Regions from separate parts of the Homo sapiens genome. Here regions 1 and 2 are each linked to region 3. The links come from fine-mapping of genetic effects on gene expression. A gene starts in region 3. Each other region holds a variant in brackets. All regions are shown on one strand. Distances are between the middles of the regions. Region 1 has its middle 19 kb from the start of MIR7110. Region 2 overlaps PDIA5 (protein disulfide isomerase family A member 5). Region 3 holds the start of PDIA5 (protein disulfide isomerase family A member 5).

Region 1 (2,683 bases), 110 kb before region 3:
CTCATCATGTTCCTTTTCTCTATGAAGAAGAGAACCTTGACCTTAAGGTCAAGGGATCTGGTTTTTTTGTTTTTTAACCTTAGTGCAGAGAGTTCATCATAATCATTTCAAGAGTTCCTGAATTCATAGCAAATTATCATGACCAGTCCATTAAAACCCCTCTCTTTCTTTATATCATTTTTAAGCCCAATGCCATTCGCATTACTTGAAATGCATCAGTACACACAATGACATCACATATTCTTAAGGACATTCGTATCCTTACTTACAGACACATCTCACACACTGGTGAGGGAGATGCACATGGGGACAAAAGGGAATCTGTAAATTAAAAAAAAAAAAAAAAGCCAAGAGAGGGGCTACCTGTCCTGGCAGTGCTAATCGTGTCCCCAGGTTGGAAGGATGATGAGAGCAGCTCTCTGGAGAGGTGGTCCATGGACGTGAGAGCCAGGCAAAAATGATGGGCAGAAACCACGGAGGGTCTATCCAGACCTACAAGCAACACCATGAGGCCACAGGGAATTTGCTGGACATGGAGCAATCTTTCCAGGCCTGTCTGCCCTTCTGTCCACTTTGAGTGTCCAGTGTTAACACGTTCAGATCCTGGTACCTGGGTAGCTTCACATGGAGTCACCTGGCAATTCCTTAGGTTCCTAGAAATATAAACAGCCAGAGTCTGACTGAATTTTGTCACTGATTTATTTCAGGATTGATAAAAAAAAGTAAATTGTTCTCCCTAGAGTGGTGTTCTCCTAATACATTCCATCAGGAAAACGTTCTCTTTTTCTGTGGCCAACCACTATGAAGGTTGTAGATTTTACAGAAGAACCAGAACTGAGGGCCACATCCTGGACAGTCCTGGCCACGAGCTTAAGTGATGGGGCTTGTCTGTGGATTGTCTTTGTTAGAAAGATGGATGCAACTGTAGTGCTGGTCACCAATGCTGGTGACACACGGCCTCTAGAAGCGGGCTAATCCAGTGGGAATCCGGCCAGACCTGCCAGAAGGCATTTTATTTTATTTTTAGCCAATCTCCTCCACCTTCCAGGTAGTCATCCACCCATGTATCTCATATATATGTTGTTAAATACGCCTGTATCTTTATGAAATATGTGTTGTGTTATGGTATGTGTGTAATCATTTCTTTCCCATGGGTAGTAAATGACATTGCACAAAGTCTGATACAAAAGTCTGGACTAATTTTTAGAATGTTAAATAGACTGCTTCTTCCACAGGACTTTAAGGTAATGTGCTGATGAATAGACTATGCAACTTTATTGCGTTTATATGGTTTTCAATGCCCTTTGAAATGTGATTAATTCTTTTAAGGATCATGGACCCTTATGACACTTAGCTCATAAATAATTAAATCCAATTAATACTCCAGACTGAACTAAACCTAATTTATTTCAAGTTCCAGTTCCAGCAGAGGAGGCCTTGGTTCACTACTTCTGAAATAATATCACTACCTCACTCTATCTTCCCTTCAATTCATTTGAGTACTAAAACATAGGTGACAAAAAGGGGAAGTTATGCATGTAGAGTTTA[C/T]GTTAAAATATAGTATTTTATTAATTTGAAAAATGTTAAAATTCAGAAAAGTAGAGAGAATAGTAGAACAAACTGCATGCCTCCACATTTTTTCTTTAAAAAATAATTTATGAAGTATGAAATAATACATGAAAAGCCATTAAAATAATATAAAGAACATCACTATGCCCAGCCCTCAGATTAAAATCTTACAAATACGGTTGAAGGCACTTCCCTGACTCCATTCCCCTCCATTCTTTCACTGCCCAAATCACCGCTATTCTCAATTTTGTGTTTATTATTCCCATGCAACTCTTTTAGCTTTTACTACTCATAGAGGCATCCAAAACAATAGTATTGTTTTGTAGATTTTAAGCTTTGTATAAATGAGATCATACTCCCAATATCTTTCAACTTTTTAATTTTCAGTGATTTTTTTCTTGTTAATAACTATGGCTCTAATTCATTCCAACTCCACTGCCACCTGTTTTTAATTGCATGATTAAAATTTATTTTTGTGATGACCAACGACGTTGATTCGAACATTCTCAAACACATCCTCTTTTGTACATATGAAGGAATTTCTCTAGAATATGTGACCATGTGTTTATAGACAGCAAATCTAAGTTTAAAAAGAGCAAAAACTCAGCCTAATTTTTCCTTAATTATGTAGAGCTCTGTAAAATGGTAGAATATATGAGGCTTCTAATAAGACAGACCTGATAGTGATAAACCTCATATTCCATTGAGGTCCATTACTTTATACCTCTCAAATATAGTTTTTGAACCCAAGGTAATTTTATTAAGTTGGAAAAAAGTCTAAATTCAATCATTTATTTTGGTGTGAATTTTAAAAAGAAGAAAGAAAGTGAAAGAAACAAATATACATAGCAGCAAAATGGAAAGAAATGTTCTACCTACTGGCCTCCGCAGAGCTCAGAGAAAGGCCTCCCTCTGGCCTCCCCTAAGCATAGAGAAAAAAAAAAATAATCAGAATTAGGAATTCAAAATGCCCGGAAAGCCAAAAGAATGCTTCTTTCAACACTTTCTGCAAAAGCCGTATGAACTGGGGAGGCATCTTCTCCCACCTCCTCACTTACGACAACCTACCAACCTGCAGAGAGAGTGCCTTGCAACCGTGATGTGGGCTGAGAGT
Region 2 (2,683 bases), 65 kb before region 3:
GAGTCTCTAAAATGGTCTGTCTCCAAATCACTCCGTATTTGGCCTGGGACTGACACCTGGAACACTGTGATTTCCAGAATTCACCCTTTCTGCACTTAGGAAACGCAGGATGACACTGCTGGTCTCTGGCCTCTTGACATTTGTCCTTTACTCCAGGTCCCTCAAACACTGCAAAAGTGGTTTCTTGATCACTGGGGATTCTCAGAAGCACTCTGGCATGAGATACAAAGCCAGGCAGCTATGAGCTCTCTGCTCTCAGTTCACCTGTCCTGAGCTCCAAACTCCCTAAAGCATGTACATTCCATCCCTCCCTAGGCTAAAGACCATGCTCTTAATGAAGAAGTGTGTAGAAAGGGAATTAATCCAGAGCTATTACCATCCGACAGGAACATTGACGGGCAGTATATCAGGAAGCTAACCACATGCTTTTGCCCTGATCCCTCTCACTCTGCCAGCCCAGCAGAAATAAACCCACATGCGCACAACCATGAATGCCCAGGGGACTGGTGACCTCTCCCAACCCTAACTGGAAGGACAGACACATGGGGATGAAGACCCTGGAGGTTCCCAAGGAGGAACTGGAAACAGCCAGCCAGTATCTGCTGTCACGGCTGGGACAGGGGTGCAAGGATGGTGATTTCGGCTCTAGATTCAACATCAATTCCTGCAAGACTCGCTTCCAGCAGCAGCTCTGAGGCTGGCCAGGGAGTGTATTTTATAGCTAGGAAGAGCACTGCAGTGCTACCTGGCTGGCCTCATGGCGGGCACTTTTTTGAGTACCTTTACCCTCGGGGATGCCCTCACCAAGGCCCTAGCAGACCTGAGGCAGACGCCCTTCATTGCGCTTCATCAGGAGAGGCCCACAAGACTAGAGGGTTTTTGAAACTTAGTTTTGGGGGCTTGTTTTGGTCTCTTTTCTAGGAACTCAGAAGAGCTATAGGAAACTATTCCTTTAGAGCTATTCCTTTAGAGTCCTTTAGAGCTATTCCTTTAGAGTCTCCTAAGAATTTAGCACTTGTAAGAAATAATGAGTTAGGAAAATCCATGGTAAGAGTATGTTTATGAGCAATTCCCAGGCTAGCCAAACTCATGGATACTGTGGGGGAAGGGGAGGCGGCCAGGAGACTGGGGCTCAGGCTCTGACCCTGTTCTTCCTGGAACCTAAGGCTCTTGAGGCCTGAAGCAGCTCAGGACTCACGGAGCCGTGGGTGGTCTATGTCATTTCTCTGTGTGACGGTCTCATCTGTAAAATGGGGCTAATTGTACTCACTTTGTGGCACGCTGGGTAAAACA[A/G]AAGATGACCCTTCAGGAAGACAATGTGTTACCACTGTAGGGTGACACACAACTGTTGGCATGAGGACCCTATGATTAAGAGGAGTAATAACATTTCCTCCTGATAGAATATGCCTCTATGGACTAACCATCCTCATGCACTGTGACCTCACGATTTCAGCCCTGCTCCATGAGGCACTGACCTCTTGCTTTTCCTCCACAATCTCTTACTCACAACACTCTGTGCCCACACCTGCCATCCCCTGGCTCTCACGCGGCCTTGTCTGCCTTCCCAGGGGCAGCCTTGTCCCTCTTGGAAACCACCTATGGTCAATTTTCCACTCTCCATGGGAGTAGGAAGACACTGCTCCAGAAAACTCCTGGGCCACAGGCCTTCCAGCCCTTATCGCAAGCACGTTTGATAGCATTTACAGGATTTTACTTCCTTGATTCACTGTGGTCATTTCAGAATGAGAATGCAATGAGGTGAAGCAGACAGAAGGCATTCTAGATGCTGGATGATCTGCAGCTCCAGCCTGGCCTCCCCATGCCCTCTCAGCTCCTGGGCAAGCACAGGCTCTCCTGGGGCCTCAGCCCGCGACCACTTGTAAGGTAAGAGGTGACTACTGCCCTAGATAATATCTTTTTTTTTTAAATTAAAAAATTGTTTTTAGAGACAGGGTCTTTTTTTTTGAGATGGAGCCTCGCTCTGCTGCCCAGGAGGGAGTGCAGTGGCACAATCTTGGCTTACTATAACCTCTACCTCCCAGGTTCAAGCGATTCTCCTGCCTCAGCCTCCCAAGTAACTGGGATTATAGGTGCACGCCACCACGCCCGGCTAATGAGACAGGGTCTTGTTTGGTTACTCAGGCTGGAGTGCAGTGGCACAATCACAGTTCACTGCAGCCTCAACCTCCCAGGCTCAAGCAATCCTCCCACCTCAGCCTCCTGAGTAGCTGGGACTACAAGTGTGCACCACATGCCCAGCTAATTTTTAATTGTTTGTAGAGATGGGGTCTTGCTATGTGGCCCAGGCTGGTCTTGAACTCCTGGCCTTAAACAATCCTCCTGCCTTGACCTCCCAAAGTGCTGGGATTATAGGTATGAGCCCCCATATGAGGTATCAGCCCTAATTTTATTTCCAGGCCCAGTCTGTTCTAGGTAACATCTCAGGGTGCTTCCAGCTTAATTTCTCCAATTCATGCTGACTGGGAGGAAGATGCTCAGAGCTAGGGGTGGTGGAGACTCACTGAGCTCTAGCTAAGGGACAAGTAAAGCCTGATCAGGACTTCTGTGTTGTTTCCATGGCAATGGGGGGTAGGCCATGTGCACTACGAGGGTGGGGACCTCGCCTGTCACCACTGCATCCCCTGGCTTAGCATGGGTCCTGGCATCCAAAAAATAAGTGCTT
Region 3 (2,683 bases):
ACTTCCAACCAGAGAGTACCAGGCCACTCCTCACTGGTGATCCAAAAGGCCAGGGTATTGGGAGATGGAAGTGTTTCAAGCAACTCAACCCACACTTTTCTCCTCCCATTTGCCCAGTGTCCTTGCCACACCCAAATGGAAAAGAACGGGAAAATCTGGGTTGGGGGGAGGGTGCCAGGAACAGGAAGTTCCCTGGAACTTCAGGGGAAAAGGACCAGGATGGTCCTAAAATAAGGGAGCGCATAAGTTATGGAAAAGATGGGGAAGGAGGCCACAATATCTCATCACACACCCACAGCGAAACGAAGGCCAAACCCCAGACCTGGGCCGGCAGGCACACCCATTCCGACCTCTCTCAGGGATGCCTGGAGTCCCCCCCACCAAGTGTAGCAAACTACTCTTGGAGTCCACTCCTTTTCCACTTTTGTAAGATTTTGCAGTTTACACAGCTTCCTCCACTGAGACCTCATCCGACTCTCAGAACCACCCTATGGGGGTAGCTTTGCCTTTCTATATCATGCATGAGGAAACTAGCTCAGATACATTAAATGAACCGCCGCGTCACACAGCTAGAAAGTGGCTGAGGCTCGAGCCCGCCTCAGTTGGGTGTAGGAGCAGCTCCTCCGCCGGGGCGGGCTACGTCGACCCCACCCAGCCCACCGAGCCTGGCCTGTGGGCGGAGGCCCAGGTGGTGGCCCGCAGTTTCCCAGACGCCTGGGGCCGAAGCCAAGAACAAGGTGGCCCTAAACCAAGGTTTCCGGCAGTGCAGGTAGTAAGCACCCCCATCCCACCCCGCACTCACACAGGTGCAGGGCTCGGAGTCTGGAGCGGAGCTCACCCCGCAGCCCGCCGGCGTCCTGCCCGACCGGCTGTGCCCCGACCTGCATCCCCGCAAAGTTGTGGCCGTGGCGTAAGCACCCTGCCAGGGATCTCCCGGCGCCCCACAGCTGCCTCCTGCCCCTGCGTCCGGGAGCGCTTGGCGGCGAGGGCACCGGGACGCCCGCTGTCTCCCGCGTAGCACCCAGTGCCCGCCTGCCTGGCATGCACGCCCTCATCCCGGTGCCCCGGGGCAGCTCCCCGCACGTTCCGCAGAGGGCTGGAGCAGAGAGCGCAGAAGGGCACGCGGGACACACGTGCTGGCCCGGCCCGGATCCCTGCCCCACAGTCTCACCCAGATTGCCAGCAGCAGCCACGCCGGCCCGGCCCGCGCCATCCCAGCAGCGCTGCCCACCGCTGGCTCCTTTCTCCACTCCGGCGCCCGCTCCCGCCCGCCCGCCTGCTAGCTCCACCGCGGCCAACCACCACGGCCACTTCCCAGCCGCTCCCCGCCTCCGAGTTCCCGGTGCCACGTCTGCCAAAGCATGCGCAGCAGCTGGGGAGAGGCGGCCGGGAAGAAGTGCTCGCTGGGAGTTGTAGTCTGCAGCCTGGCTCAGCTGGGGGCTGCGGGTGCGGACTGGGCTCCGAGGCCACGTGGCAGCGAGTGAAGTGCGAAAAGGCAAGGTCAGGGAGTAAGGGAAGGCAATTAATGAGCGGGGGCTTACTCTGTGCCTGGAGCTTCAGAAACAGTATCTCACGCAGCTCACAGAAATTAGGTTTTATTTTCTCCACTTTGAGGATTAGGAGGCAGCGCAGGGAATTTAAGTACGTTGATCCAGATCACACAGCCGGTAAATGGCAGAGTCCAGGGCTGCCTGTGAAGGACAGGAAAAGCCCTCATCCCTGCCTCCCAGACTCCCTCCTGCTTATTCTATTTAACTTCAGTAAAACATTATTGAGCTGTTGGAAAACAATCTGGTGGTTCCTCAAAAAGTTAAACATAGATTACTATATGACCAGCAATTCCACCCTTAGGCTAATACCCAAAAGAATTGAAAACAGGTATTCAGACAAATGCACGTACACCAGTGTTCACAGCAACACTATTTACAATAACCAAAAGGTAGAAACAACTCTAACGTCTGTCAAAGGATGAATGGGTAAACAAAGTGTGATACATCCATCTAATGGAATGTTATTTAGCCATTAAAAGGAATAAAGTGGCCCAGCAGGGCAGCTCATGACTGTAATCCCAACACTTTGGAAAGCTGAGGCAGCAGAATCGTGTAAGACTAGGAGTTTGAAACCAGCCTGGGCAACATAGCAAGACCTCATCTCTGCTAAAAATAAAAATAAAATAAAATAAAATAGCTGGTGTGGTGGCAAGGGACTGTAGTTCCAACTACTTGGGAGGCTAAGGCGGGAGGATTGCTTGAACCTGGGATATGGAGACTGCAGTGAGCCAAGATCATGCCACTGCACCCCAGCCTAGGCCACAGGGTGAGACCCTGTCTCAAAAAAAAAAAAAAAAAAAAAGGTGGGGGGGAGAGAATAAAATGCTAATACATTCTACAATGAATGAATCTCAGAAATGTATGCTAATGAAAGAAGCCAGACACAAAAAGTCACATATGATGTGATTACATCTTATGAAATATTTAGAATAGGTAAATCCACAGAGACAGAAAGCATAGTAGTGGGGGTGGGGAGGAAGGAATGGGGAATGACTGCTTAATGAGTATAGGGACTCCTTTGGGAGTGATAAAACATTTTGGAACTAGATGGAGATGATGGTTCCACAACATTGTGAAGGTACTAAATGCCACTAAACTGTACACTTTAAAATGGTTAATTGATGTTATGTGAA

What was found. PIP is the estimated chance that this variant, and not a neighbour inherited with it, causes the effect.
Region 1: its variant is the best candidate, but not a certain one, in a credible set for the expression of PDIA5 in monocytes (TOPMed, PIP 0.66).
Region 2: its variant is the best candidate, but not a certain one, in a credible set for the expression of PDIA5 in whole blood (INTERVAL, PIP 0.54).

Annotation. Positions count from the first base shown.
Region 1 is chr3:123,179,299-123,181,981 of GRCh38, reverse strand. No RefSeq gene overlaps it. Among named protein-coding and RNA genes, the nearest start is that of MIR7110, 19 kb to the right of the region's middle. The variant C/T (reference allele first, on the strand shown) is at 1,549.
Region 2 is chr3:123,130,702-123,133,384 of GRCh38, reverse strand. All of the region lies in intron 11 of PDIA5 (protein disulfide isomerase family A member 5), which reads right to left. Among named protein-coding and RNA genes, the nearest start is that of MIR7110, 30 kb to the left of the region's middle. The variant A/G (reference allele first, on the strand shown) is at 1,294.
Region 3 is chr3:123,065,695-123,068,377 of GRCh38, reverse strand. It overlaps PDIA5 (protein disulfide isomerase family A member 5), which reads right to left and starts at 1,353. Exons shown (of 17, transcript NM_006810.4): 1 at 1,172-1,353. The coding sequence starts at 1,213. RefSeq lists a silencer at 1,059-1,298.